Linked DNA regions of Homo sapiens. The protein of the gene in region 2 purifies or fractionates together with the protein of the main gene of each other region. This does not show direct contact. Each region holds a gene or a part of one and is shown on either strand. Other genes may lie near its edges.

Region 1 (7,334 bases), on a different chromosome or scaffold from region 2:
TATTTAGACAAGTTGTATTCTATGGTCCCATAACTACATGGCTTTTCAACATTTAAGGTCATTTCTGGTTAGATGCCAGAACCTCATTTGAAAAGTACATCTAAGGGATCATTGTCATATTGGAATAAAACAATAAAAAACCACACATTACTCTAATTCATCAGAGGTTGAACTGCTTTCAGCTGACCAATCTACAAAAGACATAGGTTTTCAAATGTCTTAAGTAGCTGTGACACCCCCAATCCCACCTAAATATATAACTACAATCAATTTCAATTATTGGTCGAAACCCAAAGAACCGAGGCATGAATAACTCTAGCCATGGAACAGTTATGCTTGCAGATTTAAGGGTACTAGGTTTTAATTAATTATTACATCTAATTAATCTAATTATTAATCTATTACAGTACAGTTTATTACTAAAAAAATGTGGATGAACTGTTAAAGCCTTCATCACAAGGTTAGGTAGCAGCCAGGCTTTAGACAAAAGTACAGATAAGCATAATTAGATTGTCCTTCGATCCACTTTCCTGTACCTGTTTATATATACCATGTTCCTATAGACAGCATTTTTAATGTTAGGAGCCTAAGACTTTTGAGATGATGCAAGCTAGTCTTAAGACCCCATCAAGGAACCACATTAGCATGAGAATGTGGTTTATCTCTCTGTCCTATGACTTCATCCTTCATTCTCTGACCAATCAATACCTTAACCCACTACCCTCTCTTTAAAACCTCTGGACCGGGTGCGGTGGCTCACGCCTATAATCCCAGCACTGTGGGAGGCCAAAGCAGGCGGATCACTAGGTCAGGAGATCGAGACCATCCTGGCTAACATGGTGAAACTCCATCTCTACTAAAAATACAAAAAATTAGCTGGACTTGGTGGCGGGCACCTGTAGTCCCAGCTACTCGGGAGGCTGAGGCAGGAGAATGGCGTGAACCCAGGAGGCGGAGGTTGCAGTGAGCCGAGATCATGCCATTGTACTCCAGCCTGGGCAACAGAGCAAGACTCTGTCTCAAAAAAAAAACCAAAAGCAAAAAAAAAACCTCTAGACCTTAACTCTTTGGGGAGGCTGACTTGAAGTTTCCTCAGTCTCCTAGTTCGGTGGCCCTGCAAGTAAAACACTTTATCTGCTGCAATCCCCGTTGTTTCCGTGTATTGACTTGCTGCTCATAGGGCAAGAATCCTATATGGTTACACAAACAGCCAAAGCCTATGTAGTTCCTTTGCAGCTCCTCCAAAGCCACAAAGTTATTTTGCTGTGAATTAAATGTTATTCTTGGCCAGGCACGATGGCTCACGCCTGCAATCCCAGCACTTTGGGAGGCTGAGGCGCGAGGATCACCTGAGGTCAGGAGTTTGACACAAGCCTGGCCAACATGGTCAAACCCTGTCTCTACTAAAAATACAAAAAAAAAAAAATTACTCAGGCATGGTGTGGGCGCCTGTAATCCCAGCTACTTGGGAGGCTAAGGCAAGAGAATCGCTTCAACCTGGGAGGCAGAGGTTGCAGTGAGCCGAGATCGCGCCATTGTACTCCAGCCTGGGGGACAAGAGCAAAACTCCGTCTCAAAAAAAAAAAAAAGAAAAGTTATTCTGGATATAATTATGTCACAAAACATGACACAAGTTTTGTTCTTCCTCCTGCTAGAAATAAATGAGTACTGGGACACTTGAACTTGGAACACAAGTAAAAAGTGCCTTATAAAACTTACAAGGGGCAGGGCGTGGTGGCTCACGCCTGTAATCCCAGCACTTTGGGTGGCCGAGACGGGTGGATCACGAGGTCAGGAGTTCAAGATCAGCCTGGCCAAGATGGTGAAACCCCATCTCTACTAAAAATACAAAAATTAGCCAGACAGTGATGGCGGGCGCCTGTAATCCCAGCTACTTGGGAGGCTGAAGCAGAGAATTGCTTGAACACGGGAGCCAGAGGTTACAGTGAGCTGAGATGGCGCCACTGCACTCCAGCCTAGGAGACAGAACAAGACTCCTTCTCAAAAAAAAAAAAAAAAAGAAAACCCCACAAAAAAAAAAACCTTAAAAGAAAACAAAATTCAGCTGGTCTTCCTATATTTTATTCAACAGAATAACCAACATCAACGAACTTTTGACTTTATGAAACTTTAGTTCTGCAATTTTATAATGTTATTTTCTTATAACTTTGAGAGAAAATTACAGAATTGTTAAAGAATTATCATTTTGTACCGATTAATGCCACATATTTAATACTTTTTCAGTACCCCAAACTTTTAGAAATGTTTTTACTTGTTAGGTGCAACATAAACAGCTACACGTAAAAATACTATTAAATTTATATGCTATAAATAACAGTATCAGCAATGATTCCTACAAACACTACCCTGCCAAAAAAAAAAAAAAGAGACCCAAATGCACACTAACGGGAGCTTAAGTCTCCACAAGAGCTTCCCCAGCCTTTCTAGAGGACGGTGAAAACAGGCTGAGAGCCCGAGGCTCAGAAAAACAGCTCAGAGGGGCTGGAGGCCAGTCTGAAAGCTGAGGCTGCACATGGGATGCTACGCACAGCTCAGGAAAGAGGTTGGCAAGCAGGAGCCGGAAGGAGCACCCCAGCCCGCAGGCCAGGAGCGCCCGCAGGCCCCCTCAGCCCCGGAGCACGCTCAAGGCCCTCCCTCGGGTTCCCAGTACCCCGGGTTTCCAGACCTACGGCCACCAGGGGAGGCTCGGCCTCGGGACGGGTGCGAGAGTCACGCGGCGCGCGACAGACCACCAAGTGCTGCGGTACGGCGCCCGCACCTGTATAACTCGGGACGCGTCAGGCGCGGCGAGCCCCGGCTGCTCCCCGGAGGCGCAGGGGCCGAGGAGGCCCGAGGGCAGCGGCGGGGTCCTTCACAGTGACTCTTGGGCCGCAGCAGCTTCTCATTCCCTCTCCCTCCCCTATTCTGGAGGAAGAACGGGCAACAGCAGCGGGCTCGAGTGCTAATGGCAGGAAGGCGTGCGAGACGTTCAAATGGACGCGTCCATCTTGACTTTCCCGTCTTGCCTCGCGCCGGGGCGGGGCATCGCGGGAGGTGCGCGGCGTCCTAGCAGTCCTGGCGCCTGCGCTGTTGAGGGAAGACCGCGGCGGGTTACAACTTGGGGGCTATTTCCACCTTCCGTGCGACTGATGCGAACCCCGAAGCCGGACTCTGTCTGCTACAGTCCTGGCGTCCAAGTTCTCTTTAGCTCATGTCACTAGGGACCTGAACTGCCTTATAGATCTCAGGGTTTTTTCTTCTGGTTTCGCTTCCGCCTCCTGACCCCACGTGGAGGTAGGCACCTCAGGCTGAGGGTGGGGAGCAGGGGTTGCTGATTTTCTCTACGTGCAGTGAATGCTCTATGCCTTTTTCGGTCCATACTCTTCGAAGAGTGGATGAACTGTGTGAAGGTCCTCACAGAAACGTTGCTTGCAATTCCCAGATTCAGAGACACTTCTTAAGGCGATTCAAAGACCCAAGTTAAGAACCCCAGCGGCCACTCGCGCCTGTAATCCCAGCACTTTGGGAGGCGAGGCGACAGGATTGCTGGAGCCCAAGAGTTTGAAACCAGCCTGGGCAATATAGCGAGACCCTGTCTCCACAAAAGAAAAATTTTTTTAATTAGCCTGGAGGCGTGGTGCGCACCTGTAGTCCCAGCTGCTTGGGAGTCTGGAGGATCACTTGAGCAGGGAGTTTGAGGCCACAGTGAGCTATGATCGCGCCACTGCACTCCATCCAGCCTGGGCAACAGAGCAAGACCTTGTCTCAAAAAAAAAAAAAAAAAAAGAATGGGTTATAGGAGAAAGGTTAGAAACAAAGATTCATGAAACAGTTAAATACAAATATACCTAATTGATATTTTAAACTTTTGTTTGTGTGTGTGTGTGTGTGTGTGTGTGTGTGTGTGTGTGTTTTTCTTGAGACAGAGTCTCGCTCTTTCGCCCAGGCTGGAGTGCCGTGGCACAATCTCGGCTCACTGCAACCTCCGCCTCCCGAGTTCAAGCAATTCTCCTGCATCAGCCTTCCAAGAAGGTGGGATTACAGGCGCCCGCCACCACGTCCAGCTAACTTTTGTATTTTTAGTAGAGACAGGGTTTCACCACGATGGCCAGGCTGGTCTCGAACTCCTGACCTCGTGATCCTCCCGCCTCGGCCTCCCAAAGTGCTAGGATTACAGGCGTGAGCCACTGCGCCCGGCCAATATTTTAAACTTTTTTAAAAAAAAAAAGTTTAGCAACCCCATCAAAAAGTGGGCGAAGGACGTGAACAGACACTTCTCAAAAGAAGACATTTATGCAGCCAAAAAACACATGAAAAAATGCTCACCATCACTGGCCATCAGAGAAATGCAAATCAAAACCACAGTGAGATACCATCTCACACCAGTTAGAATGGTAATCATTAAAAAGTCAGGAAACAACAGGTGCTGGAGAGGATGTGGAGAAATAGGAACACTTTTACACTGTTGGTGGGACTGTAAACTAGTTCAACCCTTGTGGAAGTCGGTGTGGCAATTCCTCAGGGATCTAGAAATACCATTTGACCCAGCCATCCCATTACTGGGTATATACCCAAAGGACTATAAATCATGCTGCTATAAAGACACATGCACACATATGTTTATTGCGGCACTATTCACAATAGCAAAGACTTGGAACCAACCCAAATGTCCAACAATGATAGACTGGATTAAGAAAATGTGGCACATATACACCATGGAATACTATGCAGCCATAAAAAATGATGAGTTCATGTCCTTTGTAGGGACATGGATGAAATTGGAAATCATCATTCTCAGTAAACTATCGCAAGAACAAAAAACCAAACACCGCATATTCTCACTCATAGGTGGGAATTGAACAATGAGAACACATGGACCCAGGAAGGGGAACATCACACTCTGGGGACTGTTGTGGGGTGGGGGGAGGGGGGAGGGATAGCTTTAGGAGATATACCTAATGCTAAATGATGAGTTAATGGGTGCAGCACACCAGCATGGCACATGTATACATATGTAACTAACCTGCACATTGTGCACATGTACCCTAAAACTTAAAGTATAATAATAAAGTTTAGATTTACAGAAAAACTGCAGATAGTCCAAAAATTTCCCACATACCCTATACCCAGTTTCTACATCCAGTTTCCCTATTATTAGTATTTTACATTAGTATAGTACATTTGTTAAAATTAATGAAATATCAACACATTATTAGTAATTAAAATTCATACTTTATTCAGTTTTTTTTAAGAGAGTCTTGCTGTGTTGCCTAGGCTAGAGTGCATTGGCACAAACACAGCTCACTGCAGCCTTGAACTCCTGTGCTCAAGCAGTCCTCCTGCTTCAACCCCCCAAGCAGATGGGACTCCAGGTGCAAGCCACTGCATTAGTTTGTAGAATATCCCTTAACTGAAATTTGTCTGATGTTTCTTCATGATTAGCCTGGGGATATGGATTTCAGGAAGGAAGATCATAAAGTGTCATTTTCATCACATCATATCAAAGGTACTTATCAACAGTATCACTTATCGCTGCTGATGTCAACCTTGATCACCTAACTGAGATAGTGTTTGTCAGATTTCTCTACTATGATGTTACATTTCCCCACTTTCCATATTGTACTCTTTGGAAGGAAGACAATATGTGCAGCCCTCAGTTACAGAGTGAGGCCAGTTGATTTTGTTGTTGTTTTACAAACTTGCAAAAGCAAATGAAGGAGGGAAGCATCTTTTCAACAGTTAGTGTTGCAATATTTGTATATTCAGATGGAAAAAATGAATCTTGATTCATACTACACACCATATACAAAAATTAAAGTGCATCAAAGACCCAGATATGAGAGTAAAGCTGCCGGGCGCGGTGGCTCACGCCTGTAATCCCAGCACTTTGGGAGACCAAGGCAGGCGGATCACCTGAGGTCAGGAGTTCAAGACCAGCCTGGCCAACATGGTGAAACCCCATCTCTACTAAAAATACAAAAAATAAATAAATAAATAAAATAGCCAGGCGTGGTGGCAGGCGCCTGTAATCCCAGCTACTCAGGAGGCTGAGACAGGAGAATCACTTGAACCTGGGAAGCGGCGGTTGCAATGAGTCGAGATCACGCCATTGCACTCCAGCCTGGGGTACAAGAGCGAGACTTCGTCTCAAAAAAAAAAAAAAAGAGTAAAGCTATACACTTAGAAGAAAACATAGCTGTAAATCTTCATAACCTTGGATTAGGCAATGATGTCTTAAATATGGTACCTAAAGCACAAGGAACCTAGGAAAAAATTTGATAAGTTGGAGAAAAGTTTTAAATTTTGTGCTTCAAAGGTATTGTCAAGAAAGTGAAAAGACAACTCACAGAATGGGGGAAAAGATTTGCAAATAATCTGATAAGAGTCTGTTATCCAGAATATGTGAAGAAGTCTTACAACTCAACATAAAAAGACAACCCAGTCTAAAAATGGGCAGAGGATTTGAACGACATTTTGCCAAAAATATATTATACAAGTGGCCAAAAAGGACGATAAAAGATGACCAACATCATTAGTCATTAGGGAAATGTAAGCCAAAACCACTTCACACCCAGTAGGATAGCTGTAATCAAAAAGACAGACAATAACAAGTGTTTATGAAGATTTGGAGTTATTTGACCCCTTGTACATAATTGATAGGAATGTAAAATGGTGCAGCCGCTTGGTAAAACAGTTTGACAGGTTCTCAAAAAGTTAAACGTTGGTCTCTTCCAGGAGCTACCGCCAGAAGATGGCAGCAGCCGCCAAGTTGTCACTACTAGAGAAGTCCCTGGGACTGAGTAAGGGGAATAATAAATAAAGTGCTCAGGATGAGTGACAGATTCTGGTTCTTCAAACAAACAATGGTCCAAGTCTAACAGGATTGACTACTATAGCAGCTCATCTAGTCAAGCAAGCTAACAAAGGATATTTGCTAGGGAGTACTGCAGAAGAAAAAGCAATAGTTCAGCAATGGTTACAATACAGAGTCACTCCAGTAAAAATGATAGCCACACACTGGTTTTTTTTTTTAGTTTTTTTTTTTTTTGAGATGGAGTCTCACTCTGTCACCCAGGCTGGAGTGCAGTGGCGCTATCTCTGCTCACTGCAAGCTCTGCCTCCTGGGTTCATGCCATTCTCCTGCCTCAGCCTCCCGAATAGCTGGGACTACAGGCGCCCGCCAACAACGCCCGGCTAATTTTTTTGTATTTTTTTTATTAGAGACAGGGTTTCACCATGTTAGCCAGGATGGTCTCGATCTCCTGACCTTGTGATACGCCCACCTCAGCCTCCCAAAGTGCTGGGATTACAGGCGTGAGCCACCATGCCCAGCC
Region 2 (7,296 bases):
TGGCAAGACCGCACGGATGTTCACCCTCTCCACCCTACTACCCACTCTTGCCCACCGCTTTGGGGACACCCTCCCTCTTTGAAAACCCAACATCACAGCCAATCTGCACCTCAGTAGGGGGACTCTGAAACACTGAGGAAAGGACAGGTGACACATGGGAACAGGATGGGGGGACCCACATGGCTGGGCCCAGCTCCCCTATGGCTCCGGGAGCCCAGAGCAGAGCCCCAGACCACACCCCAACAGCACAGGTGCCTGGAGGCCCCATGTGAGGGTGTCTCGCTCCCCGCTGTGGTGCAGGCTGGCTGTAGGTCAGTCCATTAGGGACCGGCCAAGCGAGTCCACACTCAAGTAGGGCAGCAAACAGGAGAAGGGGATCCATTCAGTGGCTCCTCTGGTGGGCCCAGCTTCGCCACACCTGCCTGAGGTAGCCCCCTCGGGATCCTGGCCCGATACCGCCTGCAGCCATGGGATTCTGCGCAGATCCGAAGAGCGCACCTCAGATGCGTCCTCGCTATCACCAGGGCCCAGAAGTACTGGTCTCTACCCCACATCAAGACAGCTCCAGCCACCACCCGGTCTGGGCCCACCCAGGCCTCCGTGCTCTGGATGCTTCTGAAGCCAGGTGTCAGGTTTGCCAGAAACCTACTCCCCTGTCTCCAGCGGGGCACAGCCCAAGGGAGGGGTCCTCACCTTGTGGAACTCACGCAGGAAGGAGCGCTCGTACTCGCCCCGGCAACGGTCCTCCATCCTCTCCCGGGTCACCTGGTGCAGGGTGGTGGTCACAGCCTCGGCACTGACCCGCTCCAGCAGACTGAGCCTGTGTCTAGAGGAGAGCCCTGGCCATGGGGCACCCAGAGCACACACCGGCCCCTCTAGCCCAGAACAGCCCCATGCCAGGACTGCCCTGCCTGTAGAGTGCATGCAGCACACACACACACACACACCCAGCACACACCTCCCCACAATCCTCAGCTGTGGGGGGCGGTTGTACCAAAGGCTTCAAGAAGCCACTGGGAGCACAGAGCACTCCCAGGCTCTGCTGTCCCCGCCCAGCTGGCCTCTATCCAGGTAGGGACACTGGCCTTCCCCATGTGATCAGTGGCAGCAGGTGTGGCTGTCGGGGGCCCTAGCCTTATCTCCTAGGATCAACTCTGAAACGACAACCAACTGCACTGCTACCCTGGCCGCAGAGGTACAGATGCCACTGTTTGTGCCTTTCAGTGCAGTCTCTGGTCTACAGTGACAAAAGGACTCAAGAGGAGGATGAGAAAAGTTGCCGTGTAACTTTTGCAGGGATGAGCCCAACAGAAGCCCTTCACGGTCTCCCTGACCCCTGCCAGCAAAAGGAGCACTCCTTTAGTCCACCTTTAGTCCACCTAAGACCTCTCAAGTAGCTGCATGGCTACACCCCCGTTCAATGTGACAAAACCACCACAAATGGCCAAGGGTATGACAATTGCTAGAGAACTACAACAGGACCTGTCTCTCACAACAAACCCCTCTCCTCTCCAAACTAACAAGAGACTGCTTGCCCTCACAGTGACCTGATCTTCCTGGAGAGAAGCAGCAGCAAGCTTCTGTTCACAATTACAGGGCAAGGAATGTCGACGAGGGTGAGAATCATTCCTCCCCAGGATCGACAAAAGGCACAGTGGAATTCTGCAGAGTCCAGGAAGTTTGGAGTTGCTAAGAAATTTGCTGCTGCAGACACAAGCCACATAGGGCCTTACCAGGGTCAAGGCATGAATCTGTGGGACTGAAGGTGAGTGACAGAAGAGAGACACCTGTGTCCAGGACACGCTGCACAGGAATCCCTGGGACTCTCTCTCTGTCATGTTCCTGGTTATCAGGACGGCTCACCAGCTTTCTGCTGAGGCCAGCTGGACCCAGGGGAGCAGCGGGGAACCAGAAGGAGCAAGGGCATGGCCATCGGGACAGACTACTCACAAGACCTGGCTGAGCTGATGGAACTGCTCCAGAGCCTGGCGACACCAGCACTGTTGCTTGTCACTGCTGCACCCTGCACACAGCGGGCTCTGCAGGAGCCGGTAGTACCGGCGACGGGCATACCGGCTGTCCAGCTCCCCTTCCAGTTCCGGGTCTGTGCCCCCTTCCCCCTTCCTCTTACTCTGCATATAGACTCTCAAGAAGCACCCATACAGACGCTGGATCATCTCTTGGAAGGTTCTGGGGGTGCTAAAGAACAAGACTCCGCGCAACATAGTGTGGACTTCTTCTCGCAGCCCCTGAGCACCAGTGCCCATCAGCAAGCCCAGGCGAGTCCATTTCTCCAGCAGCTCTAGGCTACGCAGGTAGGGATCCAGGCGGCTCTCCAGCAGGCCAAAAGCGTCAAGGAGTAGCAAAAGGCACTGGGGCTCATCCGCAGAGTTCTCGCATTGGGAGATGGCATTCCAGAACTCAGGGGAGATGTTGGCCTGCAGATCGTTCTGCAGCACCTCCACGAACCACTCCTCCAGGACCGAGTGTAGCCCGTGGCCCCTCAGAACCTCCACCGCCGCCCGGAGCTCCTCTTCCTTTGGCGGGACTGCACCGCTGGTCCGGGAAGACACCTGGGGTGCAGAAAACCGTGAGGCGAGGGGAACACAACATAGAGGTGGGGAGAGGCGGGGAAGGGAAGAAGCTGAGGGGGAGGCTGCAAAAACTCCGCTGCCCCCTGTCCGTGCTGCCCGGACGTTGGGCCGAAGCTATGGAAGGGCTGTCAGCGGAGCTGAACGAAACGAAACGGAAAGGTGGTGGAAAATGGCAGGACAGGACAGAGGCGGATGATGGACAGAGCCGTATGAACCCGAGGGTAGCGGCCCCAAAGCGCGTACGGTCCCGGAAACTCCGCGCGGGGCCGCCCCTCTCTTCCCAGGCCTCACCAGCCCCAGCGCAGCCGGCGGCACCAGGCCGGTGCTCACGGTGTTCCAGGCCACTAACAACTCCTGTCCGGGCCGGGAGTCGCTGTCCCCCTCCGCCACCACAACTGCCGCCGCCATCTGCACCCACCGACTCCGAGATTCGCTCGGCGCGGCGCGCGGCGATGACGCACGTCTGCACGCGCAGCCATGACGCGCACAAGGCGCTCAGCGATGACGCGCTAGTTCGGCGCGCCGTGGGGGAGTCGTGCGCAGGCGCGGACAGCGCTGCTTCCGCGGCGGTTGGGGTGGTGGGGCCCCGGGCGGCGTTGACCATGACCCAGCAGGGCGCGGCGCTGCAGAACTACAACAACGAGCTGGTCAAGTGTGAGCGGCGCAGCCGGGACGGGGAGGTCGGGAGGGCCGCAGGGCCGGGTTCCCGGCTCGCAGCGGGGTGCCCCTGGACCCGCCTCGCTGCGGGCATCGCGCGGCTGAGCAGAGCCCTCCGTGCCGGAGGCCGGGTGTCCGTGGCCCGAGCCCTCGCTGGCTCGCAGGCCCCGCGCCGGGCGCTCGGGGGTGGTGCCTGACTCTGGCTTCCTCGGGTGGAAGGAGGCCCGCCCTCCGCCGCCGCGCTCCTGCCCTGGGCCCACAGCGCCGCCCCTCCCGGCCCCCAGGCATAGAGGAGCTGTGCCAGAAGCGGGAGGAGCTGTGCCGGCAGATCCAGGAGGAGGAGGACGAGAAGCAGCGGCTGCAGAATGAGGTGAGGCAGCTGACAGAGAAGCTGGCCCGCGTCAACGAGAACCTGGCACGCAAGATTGCCTCTCGCAACGAGTTCGACCGGACCATCGCGGAGACGGAGGCCGCCTACCTCAAGGTGGAGCTCGGGAGGCCAGGCCGAGCATCAGGGGATAGGCACGGCAGGGGTGTTGCCACGGCAAGGCGTCAGGACCGGCTGGGGCTCCCGGCTGTGGGCAGTCTGTGCCTCGCTGGCATTTCGGGCAGGGGCAGCGTGGCCAGGCCCATTGAGGAACCCAGGCTGCTGTGGGAGTGACTGTGGGGCTGTCTGTGGGGCCTGGGGCATCCTGGGTCCTGGTCTTTATCCGGTTCTCGCTAGCCATGTGGTTATTTCTGCTCAGTGTGAAGAGCCAGGTCTTGGGCAGAGCACCCAGCACGGGCCAGTGCTAACCCAGCCTGGCTTTGAGGGTGGAGAGGAAGTGTTTTGGGTCAGATTCCGGAGGGAAGAGGGCCCTGCCACCCCGTCTGCCAGTCCCCTTGGGCTTCCGCCTTCCCCCACACAGGATCCCTTGGCTACAGCACCCCCAGCCAGGTCCCAGCACCTGAGTGTGAGGACAGCTGGGGCTTAGGACCTTACCAACAGGTGAACATTAACAACCTTCTCACTTCTCTGGCCCCAGATCCTGGAGAGCTCCCAGACTTTGCTCAGCGTTCTCAAGAGGGAAGCTGGGAACCTGACCAAGGCTACAGCCCCAGACCAGAAAAGTAGCGGCGGCAGGGACAGCTGACCAGACCACGGGCAGGGCCTGCCTCCGTGTGCCCCTCAGCTCAGCCCCAGCAAGTGTGTGCTCAGAGCATCTTTGTTCTTCACGGCAGCAGCTACCTTCCCTCACTGTCTCAGGTGCCGAGAGGGGCAGGTGCCAGCCTCCACTGGCATCAGTGACAAGCCCAGGGCACAGCCCACCCGGGGGTCCTCGCTTCATGCTCACACAGGCTATGGGGATGGTGGGCTCCAGGTCAGCTCTGCAAGGGGCTTGTCTCTGTGGCACCCACACTCCTGCCCTGCCAGGGAGGCTCTGGTTGTCTGAGCACCATGGGGGCCCCCTCACCTTGTCCCTCCTCAGCCAGCAGAGGCCCAGGGCAAGGGACAGGAGGACAGGGGTTCTCCTTCACCACAGAACCCAAACCTCAGGTCTCACCCCTGTGGCCTGTGATTATGAATAAAGATTATCTTTGTAAAGATCCGTGCCAGCCTGCTGCTTGCCCGTATCAACAGCATGGGGCTGCCAGACACCTGCAGAGCCAGAGCCTGAGGCTCCCCCTTGGGAGAGGAGGGAGGAGGGTCTGGAGTGGCCTCCCTGTGACTGCCCCACTAGCCTCAGGGACACCGCTGAGGGTGCCCACCCTCCCCAGGCCAGCCCCACCCTGAGCCCTCCCCAGCAGGGCCGCCGGTCCTCTTCCCCTGACTGGCCCACGGCTCACCCTCCTCTCAGGAGCTCTGCTTGCTCGTCCTGTTCTCTGCCACACCCTGGTGGCCAGCATAGGACCCAGCCCAGAGAGACAGCTGGGGATGCCAAGCATATCCAGCAGCTGCCTCAGATTCAGGTCCCTCTCAGCAAGGACTGGGGGGAGTTCACACCCCCCACCCCCGTCGGTTCCTCAGTTGCAAGTTTTGCTTGGCCTGATGACACCACTGCTGCCACCAGGCCCTGCTGCCCACCTTTCCCTGGCCGCACACCAAGCACTGGCCACTTCCATCCTTCCATGTGCCCTGGGGCCTCTGTTTTGTCCCTGCAGCAACCAAGCATGGCCCGAGGACTGGGCCGATTTGGGAGGCATGTGTTGATCCAGAGGGTCCAGAAAAGAGCTGGGCCTAACCCGACCAGGGAAATACACCAAACTCTCCTTCCGCCGGAGTTTGGCCAGACAGCATCTCTTTATCTCTTTGCTCTTAGGTTTGATCCTCCAGGGAGGAAATGGTGCTTGGGTTCCATGGGCTGTAAACAGCCCCAGCTCTGGCCGTCTGAGGCAGGCGCTGCTCCCGGCCTGCCTCATCCTGTGGGTCGGGGGGCACGCCAAGCCCAGCAGAAGACACCGTCCCCTGTGCTGCCCTCATGCTGCCCTTCCCTTGGTCCCTCCCCAGGCTCTGGGCCCCTCAGAGAAGCCACTTCAGGCCCAACAGCTGCAACACTCTCACCCTCCCACCTGAAGTCTAGGCCCCTGACAGCAGGCCTGTCATCCTACCTCCCACAGTGCCAGCTCTGGGAGGCTGGGGTGGAGGGGCAACAGGTTAACAGGCCATGGAAGTTGGGAGGTCAGAGCCTTGGCCACTGGGACATCAAGGAGTGGGGGTACCAGATCGGGGTCACCTCCCACACACCCTGGCATAGACGTGCAAACTGGGGCCCACTGGACCCCATGTGGCCTCTTCCTGCAGAGACCTCCCCCTGCTCCCTTCTCAGCCAAGGACCACGCAGTGGGGACACCAGCAGCCTTGTCCAGTGCTGTTTATTGAGTCCATCATCAGAGGCAGGAAAGACGCCACTCATCACAGAGGGCATGTGGGCTGCGGGCAGGGGCTTAGGGTCCTGCAGAGGACAAGTAGCTGGGACAGCCCTTCACCCCGACACCCCATGGCCACTGTGAGGCAGGCTGAGGAGACAGGACAGGGAATGGCCAGGTGCAGAATCTGCACAGCCCCCTGCCGGGTCGCAGATGGCCACCACCCAGCAGGCCCCTGGCACTCACCCACAGGCAGTTCCCCACCCCACTTCCCCCTTGGACCCTCCCAAATCAGGGCCGGGGAGTGAGACCCAGACCTGGCCCCGATGGCAGGAGGCACCCTAGCTGCTTCCAGGGCCAGGAGGGGTGGGTGGGATACAGTGAGGCCAAACAAGGCAGAAGCGGGTGCAGTAGTCCCTGGCTACTGCCCAGCTTCCGGGACTCCCACAGCTGGGCTCAGCCTTGGTCCTGGCAGTGCTGGGCTCAGAAATACAGGGCTGGCTCGCTGCGGAAGTCCGAGAGGTCATTCTGACTGGCGGGTGTGAGCTGAAAGTGAGAGGACAGAATGTGGACACATGGGCTCGCCCGGGTGTCAGACTCCCCCCAGCGCTCCACTCCCCCGCATCTCACCATGGCCTCCACGGGCGGGGGCTCTGCCTCCCTCGGGGCCTGCTCCAGCGCCTGCTCCTGCCACTTGCTGAAGGCCACAGAGTGCTTCGGGGTGTAGCTGGACAGGCCTGTGAATGGAGGTGCACATGCAGACGTGGACACAGACCAGGCTCCACCCCTCCCAGGCTGCCTGTCCCCCAGGTGGGCACTCACCTGAGCTACCCTCTGGCAGCCGAGAGCTCTCGGGTCTCACGCTGCTCACAAACGTGGCCCGGGGCAGGAAGAGTGCAAAGGGCTTCTCCTCTGAGCCGGATCCCTCTTCCTCCTCTTCCTCTTCCTCCTCCTCCTCCTCCTCCTCCTCCTGCTGGTCCACCTCTTCCTCCTGCTCTAGGGAGCTCTCGGAAGGGTACTCAAATGTGGTCTGCAGGCTTTTGTCGTTGAAGGAGATCTTCATCTGGGAGTGAGAGTCACGTGAACGAGGGCTGAGGGCCCACATGGGCACAGTGATGCCAGGGGCTCAGGTTCAGCCCTCAGGATGAGGCTGACCCAAGTGGGGCGCCAGACACACCATCAACCGTTCCGGGGGCTC
Region 3 (3,383 bases), on a different chromosome or scaffold from region 2:
TCTTTCCTTGACTCCTTACAGATCAGCAAGTTGCTCGGATGGAAAAACTAGCTGGTTTGGTAGAAGAGCTGGAGGCTGACGAGTGGCGGTTTAAGCCCATCGAGCAGCTGCTGGGATTCACCCCCTCTTCAGGTTGATACTGCCTGGATGGTCACCTCTGGTGCGCAGCAAGTGCAAAGCCAGTGGGGGACTTTCTCACAGCTTACATAGCCATCCAGAGATCCACAGCTACGTCACTGAATTGTTAATGCACATTTGTACTTGGTTTCTCTGTATCTATTCACAGGCAACAAATACTTATATGTGTGATCTTTCAGGGAATGTTTTGTTTATTTGTTTTTAAAAGTATTGGGAATCAGATTAAGACAATCAGTTTCAGAGAACCAGGAGGTTTGGGGTTAAGAGATACTCAAAAATTTTCACAAGCCAAGTAGGGCATATATCAGATTTGGCCAACTGAATGGCGTCTGTCCTGTCATCCATATGGTGCCTGGAAATATTTACCAGTCAAGGTCAAGGTCAGCATCTGTGGTTAAAAATATAGCATTCTGACCTAAAAAAGTTATTTTGCAGATGAATGTGTTTTCAACTCAGGACCTATCCAAATGAGGAATTTTTAAATATTCTTTTTTTTTTCCTATTTTTAGACATCAATTCTATAGATTCTGACTTTTTCTAACCTCTTATAGACATGCCAAATGCTGGCAAAAAGAAGTGCTTTTTGGATATGGCAGCACTTGTAAAAATAAAGCAGTAAGCAAAATCCTTTTAAACACAGAAATCCTGAGTTCTTCTCATTGGTGGACTCAAGCAATTCTGTAGCAAATAAATCCTTTGAAAGAGCTCCAAATTGGTGGCATTATCCTTTCAAAATCTCAGGGATTTGGGATGAAGTGAAGAGGTCAAATTACTTTTTAGAAGAAGGGAATCTAAAAACCATCTCTCCTAAACAAATGGTAGACTGGCTTTACTTAAGGGATATTTGTCTTTATAGGAGTACATAAATTTATCTTAATGATATTTAAGTAGTTTTTTTTTTTTTTTGAGACGAAGTTTTGCTCTTGTTGCCCAGGCTGTATCGCAATGGCGCGATCTCTGCTCACTGCAACATCCACCTCCCAGGTTCAAGCAATTCTCCTGCCTCAGCCTCCCAAGTAGCTGGGATTACAGGCACCCGCCACCACACCCAGCTAATTTTTTGTATATTTAGTAGAGACGGGGTTTCACCATGTTGACCAGGCTAGTCTCGAACTTCTGACCTCAGGTGATCCACCTGCCTCAGCCTCCCAAATTGCTGGGATTACAGGCGTGAGCCACCTTGCCCAGCCAATTTTTTTTTAAAGAGACATGGTCTTGCTATGTTGCCCAGGTTGGTCTTGAACTCCTGGCCTCAAGAGATCCCCCCAACCTTGGCCTCCAAAGTGCTGGGATTACAGGCATGAGCCACCGCGCCTGGCCTCAAGTAAGTTTTTATACCATGATAGGGGAAAACCTGGAAGGCTAAGAGATGTGCTGTTTTCCTTCATGGGACCCCACTTTCCACAGTAAACAACTGGTATAATCATTTATTACGTTGTATGCAAATTTTGCCTTAGACAACATTTGTCTGGTTCCTTATTAATAACTTGCATCTGATCTGCTTAGAGTTGCTTAATTATAAGTAAATATAATCCCAGTAGCATTTAGCCTTAATCTCAAGAGTTCAAAATGTTTAACACATTCTACCTGACGGGAGGTGGTGACCTCATTCAGTCGGTTAAGAGCCTGAGCCCTGTGAAGTTAAACACCTGCTCATGGTCACATAGCCCAGGCAGAAGAAAATCTCGGACTTGGAATAGATCCCAGTTGCCTGATAATTCATCTCATTATTGCCTCTAAAGCAAATTGGAGACTGGGCACAGTGGCTCCCACCTTTAATCCCAGCACCTGGGGAGGCTGAGGTGAGTGGATCACTAGAGGTCAGGAGTTCAAGACCAGTCTGGCCGACATGGTGAAACTCAGTCTCTATTGAAAATACAAAAATTAGCTCAGTGTGGTGGCACACACTTGTAATCCCAGCTACTCAGGAGGCTGAGGCATGAGAATCGCTTAAACCCAGGAGGCGGAGGTTGCAGTGAGCTGAGATCACACCATTGCACTCTAGTCTGGGTGACAGAGCGAGACTCTGTCTCAAAAAAAAAAAAATAAAGCCGGGCGTGGTGGCTCACGCCTGTAATCCCGGCACTTTGGGAGGCTGAGGCAGGCGGATTGCCTGAGATCGGGAGTTCGAGACCAGCCTGGCCAACATGGTGAAACCTTGTCTCTACTAAAACTACAAAAAAAATTAGCCAGGCGTGGTGGCGGGCGCCTGTAATCCCAGCTACTCAGGAGGCTGAGGCAGCAGAATCGTTTGAACCCGGGAGGCGGAGGTTGCAGTGAGTGGAGATCGTGCCTGTGTGCTCCAGCCTGAGCAACAAGAGCGAAACTGTCTCAAAAAAAAGAAGAAAATAAATAAATAAAAATCAGAGCACAAGAAGTACCAGTCCACCAACTCACATTTTCTATATTAATAATTCTTAACTAAAAGAAGTTCCATATTCGACAGCATTTTAGTTTTTTAATAGTACTTATTAGCATCAACCATCTTGATAATCACCAAGGGAAAAATTAAAAATACCTAGACTGCAATAAACCTTTAAATTGGATTTTCAGTGAGAATTTAGAAGCAATCACTACCTTTCTCGTTTCATTTGTGTAACCATGCAGCATAGGCACTGTGTTACATCATCTTTACGCTTTGGTATTTGAACTTATTACAGAATTTTTTCTCTAAATTGGATGTTTCTTTATATGACCTTGGAAACTGAAGTGATCTTAGCATTAAACAAAAATGCTTTTTGAAGCACCTTTCTCATTGATCACTTAGCTGCTATTTTAGTCTTACCAAGAATAAGACTCTCACAATTTTTTAAAGAGAGTACCTCCCTCTCTATACCTTTTTGTCAGTCATTATGTTGCATCGTCCACAACGCCTGTTACTATGCTTTGGGCTCAAAGATGGTCCCAGTTGCTGATCTGTCATCTGTCTTCTCTTGTGCCAGTCACTCACAGGCATGAATTATAATCCTCTGAATAACACAGCAAGATACGTAATACCCCCTAATATAGAAAAGGAACTTGAAGCTCAGAGCAAGTGTCACTTGCCAAGGCTGCACAGCTAAGTCAATGGCCAAATCTGGATTTAAGTTCAACTCAGCCAGAATCCAAAGCAGCTTCTTTTAGATTCACTATGCCACATCCCACCAAACCCAACCCAGCACATTGTATTAGGAAAAATCCTAAAACTTTTGATTAAATGGTAAAAGGAAGTAACTACCTGGAGAAAATAAGGCTTCCGCTACCTT
Region 4 (6,964 bases), on a different chromosome or scaffold from region 2:
TAAAATATTAAAAAAAAAAAAAAACAGAGTTCAAGAACCCACCCAGAGATCGAAATTCACTCGATGGATTTGGGTTTGGGTTTGGGACCCAGAACTCTGCATTTTAAACAAACACTCCAAGTGAGTCTGATGCAGATAACTAGGACCTACACATTGGGAAACAACTCTTGAGGGCAAGGACAAAATCCATTTCATTTTTGTAATCCTTGAGTTTAATGCATCATAGTCATTCCATAAAAGCTTGAACTGAATATGCTTTAATTTGCATGAATGCTCAAAAAATTGAACCCAGTGAGAGATGACAAACGGCGCAAACCTTAGACTAGGAATCTGTCTTCATCATACTTACATTAATGCACATAACTCATGCAGCAAACAAAAACTGATATAGACTTTATTGGTCTGGTGGTCCATGTGGAAAAATATAACAGTATTTTCAATTCTTGGCTACTAGATATTACTAAACAAACAGAAAACTCAATTTCCCTGCTTCAGAATGCTTAACATTAAAAGATGTTTTGGCTGGGCATGGTGGCTCACGCCTGTAATCCCAACACTTTGGGAGACTGAGGTGAGCAGATCGCTTGAGGTCAGGAGTTCGAGACCAGCCTGGTCAACATGATGAAACCCTGTCTCTACTAAACATACAAAAATTAGCCAGGCATAGTGACATGCACCTGTAGTCCCAGCTACTCTACTTAGGAGGCTGATGCAGGAGAATCCTTTGAACCTGGGAGGCAGAGATTGCAGTGAGCCCAGATCGCACCACTGCACTCCAGCCTGGGCAACAGAGCGAGACTCTGTCTCAAAAACAAACAAACAAGAAAACAAAAATAAAAGATGTTTTAAAAAGTAGCTAAATTCTGAAATACTTACAGGAGACATGTAATAAGGTGTGCCAACAAATGTTTTTGCAAAACTCGTGTCATGGTTTAATATTCTAGCTAGCCCAAAGTCTCCAAGCTTGACGTTTTGCTTGCCATCCAGGAAAACATTGGCTGGTTTCAGATCCCGATGCAATACGGTATGACCACCATCACTTCGTCTGTGGCATTCCTTCAGGGCCAGAGTCAACTGAGTCATCACTCGAAGAACAAACTCTTCATCTAAGTATTGCCTAAAACCAAAGCAGTTATACAGCATATAACTTCTAAAAAAATCATTGCCAAGATGGGATGATATAAATTATCCAGTGTACAAATAGGGAATTTATTTATTTATTTATTTATATTTTTTGAGACAGGGTCTTACTCTGTCACCCAGGCTGGAATGCAGTGGCACGATCATGGCTCACTGCAGCCTCGACCTCCCAGGCTCAAGCAATCCTCTTGCCTTAGCCTCCCAAGTAGCTTGGACTACAGGCACATGTCACTATACCTGGCTAATTTTTGTAGAAACAGGGTCCCACTATGTTGCCCAGGCTGGTCTTGAAATCCTGGGCTCAAGTGATCCTCCCGCATCGGCCTCCCAAAGTGTTGGGATTACAGGTGTGAGCCACCACACTCAGCCTATAAATTGTTATTTTGATATAAAATATGGGTGTTGATTCACCAGGAATTTTCTAAAGTACTGTGGACCTACCAAACAAATACAAATACACTCTTCCATATTACTGATCCTAAAACAAGATGCTTAAAATAAATGAAACTAGACCAATTTCAGCTTACATTTTTAAAAGATTATGCTTACCTTTCCTTGGTTCCCTTTGTAATTACACTAGCCAGATCCCCTCCTTCACAATATTCCATTACAATGTACAGTGTTGTATTGGTCCGGTCAATAATCCGATCATAGTAACGAACGATGTTTGGATGTTTCAGTTCACGAAGCAAATTCACTTCAGAAACAAGCATCTGTTTCTCAGCTTCTGTCATGGAGCCATAGTCAAGTTCTTTCCAAACTAATATCTGAAATAAGAATTTCCAAGGTATGAATGAACTCATTATGCTCAAAAACAAAGAATGAAAGTTCCAAGATTTAACAAATTACCTCCCTTTTAATTATATCCTACAATCAAGGTCATTATCTAATTTAGTTCAATGAACTTAAGGAGCTGTGAGTTTACTTCCATAATCTTCCTCCAGTTCTAAGCAGTAAATGTATGTTGTGGGGAGACAAACGGGAATGAGGCACATGAGGACTCCCCCAACCCCTACCCTCAGTTGGTTAGTGGGAAGTTGGCTAAAAGGTACTATAGTCAAAATTGGGGTGAAGGTGGTCAAAGTCCCTGCCCCATTCCACCCCAGTCGTGTTTTCCCAGGATGAGACACCTTGGTAAAGATCCCTCCATCAGCAGCCAGGCAGTTTCCTGTCCAATGTTACTTTCTGTAAAAGTTCTACCTATATACATTGGGAAATATGAATCCAATAATCCTAATAATGGATATTTTGAGGGAGTCTGACTGCAGATACAAAGCTTCGGGTTCTGGTAGTCCTGCCCCTTTCTTGTGCCTGAGAGGGCCACTCTTAGAGCTCTAAAAACAGCTCAGGAATTAGTTACCTGTCACCAATGGAAGGTCCTTAGCAAGCCAAAGCAGGAGAAAGAGAGAAATGGGGAGAGAAACGGGAAAAGATGGAAATACATATATCAAAAGAAGCGGTCTCCCATCCTTTAAGCCACCCAGGACAGGCTGTCAGATGCAGACCCAGGAAAGACGGTTTAGTCTTCCGGGCACCCATTTCCTCAGCCCTGTCGGTTCCCTTCGGTGGCGCAGGGCGCTCGCCCCGAGGCGACGAAACCTAAGCAGGGGCAGGCGCAGGGTAGGTCCCACGCTCACCTTGCCATCACTCTTCCTCCGGATCTTCTGGCAGCGGCCGTAGGAGCCTGTGCCAATGGTGTACAACACTTCATAGTCCTCAGCCCGGGAAGGCATGGCCGGCCAGTCGCCAGAGTCGCGCTGCCTCACGCAGGTTGCGCCGCCAAGTGCGGAGCTCCAGGGACCAGGAACTCCAGGGACCTGGATGGAGAAGCCCCCGAGCAGCACTGACCCGCCACCCCTGCCTTGGGCCCCGTTTAACCGTCGCGGGCCCTGATCTCGCAGTCTATTGGCAGGCGGTGGGCCGCTTCGCCTCTCTCATTGGCTAAGAAGAACACAACAATACCCTAGGCATTTTGGGAAAAGTGTCACTAGGCAACCGCGTCGGCGTCTGCTTTTAACCTGTGGGAGAACCCGGCGAGCTAAGCCAAACGGAGGGCGGGAGAGAGGAAGCGGCAGCTGGCGCCTCTCGGCAACTCTAACCCTCTGATAGAGATCGCCAAGGTAACCGAGATCTAAGGTCCTCCCCTCAGGCTTCTTTGCACACCGCTTCCACCAGATGCCTTCTGACCTTTGCACTCTGGCCCCTCACACTACCTACTCTCCCCGGCACACGCATTCCTCGCTCAGGTTCCAGTACCCTGAACCTGGGTGGGGTCACGTTGAGGATATGCTGAGAGCTGAATACAAATTAGAAATACAGACTCCCGGGTGGGCGCGGTGACTCACGCTCGCCCGTAACCCTAGCACTTTGGGAAGCCGAGGTGGGTGGGTCGCTTGAGCCCAGGAGTTCAGACCAGCCTGGGCAACAGGGCAAACCTCGTCTCTACTGAAAATACGAAAATTAGGCCGGGCGCTGTGGCTCACGCCTATAATCCTAGCACTTTGGGAGGCCGAGGCGGGCGGATTGCTCGAGGCCAAGAGTTCAAGACCAGCCTGGCCAACATGGCGAAACCCCGTCTCTACTAAAAATGAAAAAAAAAAAAAAAAAAGTAACAGAGCATGGGGTTGCAGGCCTGTAATCCCAGCTTCTTGGGAGGCTGAGGCATGAGGAATTGCTTGAACCTGGGAGGCAGAGGTTACAGTGAGCCGTGCGCCACTGCACTCCAGCCTGGGCGACAGAGTGACACCCAGTCTCCAAAAAAAAAAAAAAAAGGAGAAATACTGTCGCTCTCCTACCAAGTACTTTACACGTCTTGTCCCGTTTATGTGTGCCAAATACACAATTAACCCTATCGACAATACTTCATTGAACACAGATTCTCTTTTACGCACCCACACACCAACGTTCTCAGCTTACCCAGCCAAATGAACAGCCCCATGTTTACCAGGGAAGGAGGACTTAGAGGCCTCCATCCAGGGCTTGTTAGAGGAATATGTAAATTACCAGAAAGCTAATAATTTGGAAATGCATGAACAGGCCAGTTTTCTTTAAATATCTGTTCAGCAAAGGATTAAAAGACACCTGATTTTCTATTAATAAGAATTTAAAAGCTCTTTATGTAAAAATAAGGGACTTATTACATGCCCTGAATATAACATAAGATAATTGGAATTGCCAACCAGGAGAATTTTTAAATTAACATTCAAGGGCACTGTCTTACCTCAGGGGAATAGGACCAATTTAGGTTTCAAAAGTTATGTAAGGCACTGCAAGTGGCTGTGTTAATTAGCATCATTTTTTTATTTTTGTGCCTCTTACAGATTGGTATCCATAGAGCTTGCTGTGGTTTGAATGTATCCCCCAAAGTTCATGTGTTGGAAACTATTCTTAATGCAAAAGTGTTAAGAGGTGAGACCTTTAAATTGATTGGGTTATGAGGGCTACCCCTCACGAATGGATTAACGTAATCACAGGAGTGGGTTATCTTGAGAGTCGGTTGGTTATAAAAATGAGTTTGGCTTTCCCTTGCTGTTTCTCTTACCATGTGATGCCTTCTGCTATTTTATGACCCAGAGAAAAGGCTGCTGCCAGATGCTACCCCTTGATCTTGGACTTCCTAGCTTCCAGAACCGTGAGCCAAATAAACTATTGTTTATAAATTGTCCAGTCTGTGGCATCCTATTATAGCAACATGAAACTGTATAAGACAGAGCCCTGGCCGGGCACGGTGGCTCACACCTGTAATCCCAGCACGTTGGGAGGTCAAGGCGGGTGGATTACGAGGTCAGGAGTTCAAGATCAGCCCGGCCAACATGGTGAACCCCGTCTCTACTAAAAATACAAAAATTAGACACAATGGCAGGCACCTGTAATCCCAGCTACTCGGGAGGCTGAGGCAGAAGAATCGCTTGAACCCAGGTGGCAGAGGTTGCAGTGAGTGGAGATCACACCACTGCACTCCAGCCTAGGCGACAGAGTGAGACTCCGTCTCAAGAAAAAAAAAAAAAAAAAAATGAGCCGTTTGGTTATCCTGCCCCAAATCCAGTCCTGCACCTTCTCTCTGGCCACTTCTGCTTTTGCTCTAAACGCACACTTTCTCAGTTCCTCACCACCACCACCATCTTTGCACCTGTGATTGCATTTGTCCAGAATACTGTCCAACCCACTCCCTTATCCACTCCAGTCATGTCTGCCCAGAGGACATAACGTGTCCTTCAAGATTCAATTCCAACTTTTTCTCCTGTAATCTGAGAAGCCTCTCTGGCGTACTTGGACAGTCAATCCTCCATCTACAGTGTTCATAGACCACTTTATACATAAATCAAAACTTATCATTATTTGTTTACATGGCTCTCACAGTAGCTGAACTCCGAACTGCTTATAGCCAGCATAAGTCCTGTAATAGAGAAGGCATGCAATAAAGCTTCGTTAAATAAAAATCTGCGAAAGCCCCTTATTAATAATTATGCAAGGATTTTGAGTGGGCCCTCAAGTACTCAATTGCCAAATGCCCCAGCTCTAGGCAGAGACGAAATATCTGGAAAGGAGCCATCCCAAGAGTATGGAATGTGGCTCCTACGCACATATGCTCATTTAACAAGTATTTATTGAGCACTTGCTATGGCCCAGGTATGATAGGTATTGACATGCTGGCTTTTCATTTAAAAAAAGACAGTGGAGCCCCAAAGACAATAATAAAGAGTAGCACAGGAGGCTGGGTGTGGTGTCTCATGCCTGTAATCCCAGCCTTTTGGGAGGCCGAGGCAGGCGGATCACCTGAGGTCAGGAGTTCAAGACCAGCGTGGCCAATAAGGTGAAACCCCGCCTCTACTAAAAATACAAAAATTAGCTGGGTGTGGCCAGTATGGTGAAACCCTGCCTTTACTAAAAATACAAAAATAGCTGGGTGTGGTGGCACGTCTGTAGTCCCAGCTACTTGGGTGGCTGAGGCAGGAGAATCGCTTGAACTTGGGAGGCAGAGGTTGCAGTGAGCCAAGATTGCACTACCACACTCCAGCCTGCTCAACAGACCGAGACCCTGTCTCAAAAAAAAAAAAAAAAAAAAAAAAAAAAAAAAAGTCCGGGCACGGTGGCTCAAGCCTGTAATCCCAGCACTTTGGGAGGCCAAGGTGGGCGGATCATGAGGTCAGGAGATCGAGACCATCCTGGCTAACATGGTGAAACCCAGCCTCTACTAAAAATACAAAAAAATTAGCTGGGTGTGGTGGCAGGCGCCTGCAGTCCCAGTTACTGGGGAGGCTGAGGCAGGAGAATGGCGTGAACCCGGGAGGCGGAGCTTGCAGTGAGCCGAGATCGCGCCACTGCACTCCAGCCTGGGCGACAGAGCAAGACTCCGTCTCAAAAAAAAGAAAAAAAAAAAGGGTAGCATAGGAATCACTCACATGACAAACCCTAAAGGTTGGCCAGAGTTAGCCCGCATCATGAGTGAGGGCAGGACAGCCCAGCAGAGACCACTAGACACCAGAATAGAAAGAGACACTGGGAGATGAGAAGCATGTGGGAGTCAAACAGGGACAGGTTACAGGGAACATCCTTTCCCCTATAACTTCTTTCCTTTTTCCTTCATATTCCATCCATTCTTTAAGTCTCAGCTCATGCCCAATTTCTTCTCTGAAATTTTTCCTGATTGACTTCAACCCACTATGATCTATCTTCTAATTACTCTTAAGAGTAATCAACTGTGTTTTTACTCATTTAGAATTATACTAGGCCATATTACTAGCTTCTCATGTGCATGTATCTTCTCTGCCTTATTAAATGGAAAATTCATCCTCCAACAAGTATAAATAGAGGCTGAGTCAGG

Evidence for each region.
Region 1: the proteins of ANAPC2 (region 2) and ANAPC1 fractionate together in Homo sapiens (co-fractionation; 8 studies listed by BioGRID and IntAct, with this or other methods). This does not show direct contact.
Region 3: the proteins of ANAPC2 (region 2) and ANAPC16 purify together in Homo sapiens (co-immunoprecipitation; 5 studies listed by BioGRID and IntAct, with this or other methods). This does not show direct contact.
Region 4: the proteins of ANAPC2 (region 2) and NEK2 purify together in Homo sapiens (affinity purification with mass spectrometry; 4 studies listed by BioGRID and IntAct, with this or other methods). This does not show direct contact.

What each region holds. Positions count from the first base shown.
Region 1 is NC_000002.12:111,881,163-111,888,496, forward strand, and holds the start of ANAPC1 (anaphase-promoting complex subunit 1), read right to left. Parts: upstream 3,032-7,334; 5' UTR 2,780-3,031; intron 1-2,779. UniProt on the Homo sapiens protein: Component of the anaphase promoting complex/cyclosome (APC/C), a cell cycle-regulated E3 ubiquitin ligase that controls progression through mitosis and the G1 phase of the cell cycle.
Region 2 is NC_000009.12:137,185,531-137,192,826, forward strand, and holds the start of ANAPC2 (anaphase-promoting complex subunit 2), read right to left. Parts: upstream 3,031-7,296; 5' UTR 3,003-3,030; coding exon 2,886-3,002; intron 2,574-2,885; coding exon 1,951-2,573; intron 827-1,950; coding exon 694-826; intron 1-693. Other genes in the region: microtubule nucleation factor SSNA1, read left to right, coding at 3,197-3,248, 3,536-3,735, 4,277-4,384; TPRN (taperin), read right to left, coding at 6,582-6,644, 6,729-6,835, 6,921-7,161. UniProt on the Homo sapiens protein: Together with the RING-H2 protein ANAPC11, constitutes the catalytic component of the anaphase promoting complex/cyclosome (APC/C), a cell cycle-regulated E3 ubiquitin ligase that controls progression through mitosis and the G1 phase of the cell cycle.
Region 3 is NC_000010.11:72,232,980-72,236,362, forward strand, and holds the end of ANAPC16 (anaphase-promoting complex subunit 16), read left to right. Parts: intron 1-21; coding exon 22-137; 3' UTR 138-2,881; downstream 2,882-3,383. UniProt on the Homo sapiens protein: Component of the anaphase promoting complex/cyclosome (APC/C), a cell cycle-regulated E3 ubiquitin ligase that controls progression through mitosis and the G1 phase of the cell cycle.
Region 4 is NC_000001.11:211,672,607-211,679,570, forward strand, and holds the start of NEK2 (serine/threonine-protein kinase Nek2), read right to left. Parts: upstream 3,016-6,964; 5' UTR 2,874-3,015; coding exon 2,778-2,873; intron 1,908-2,777; coding exon 1,690-1,907; intron 1,118-1,689; coding exon 877-1,117; intron 1-876. UniProt on the Homo sapiens protein: Protein kinase which is involved in the control of centrosome separation and bipolar spindle formation in mitotic cells and chromatin condensation in meiotic cells.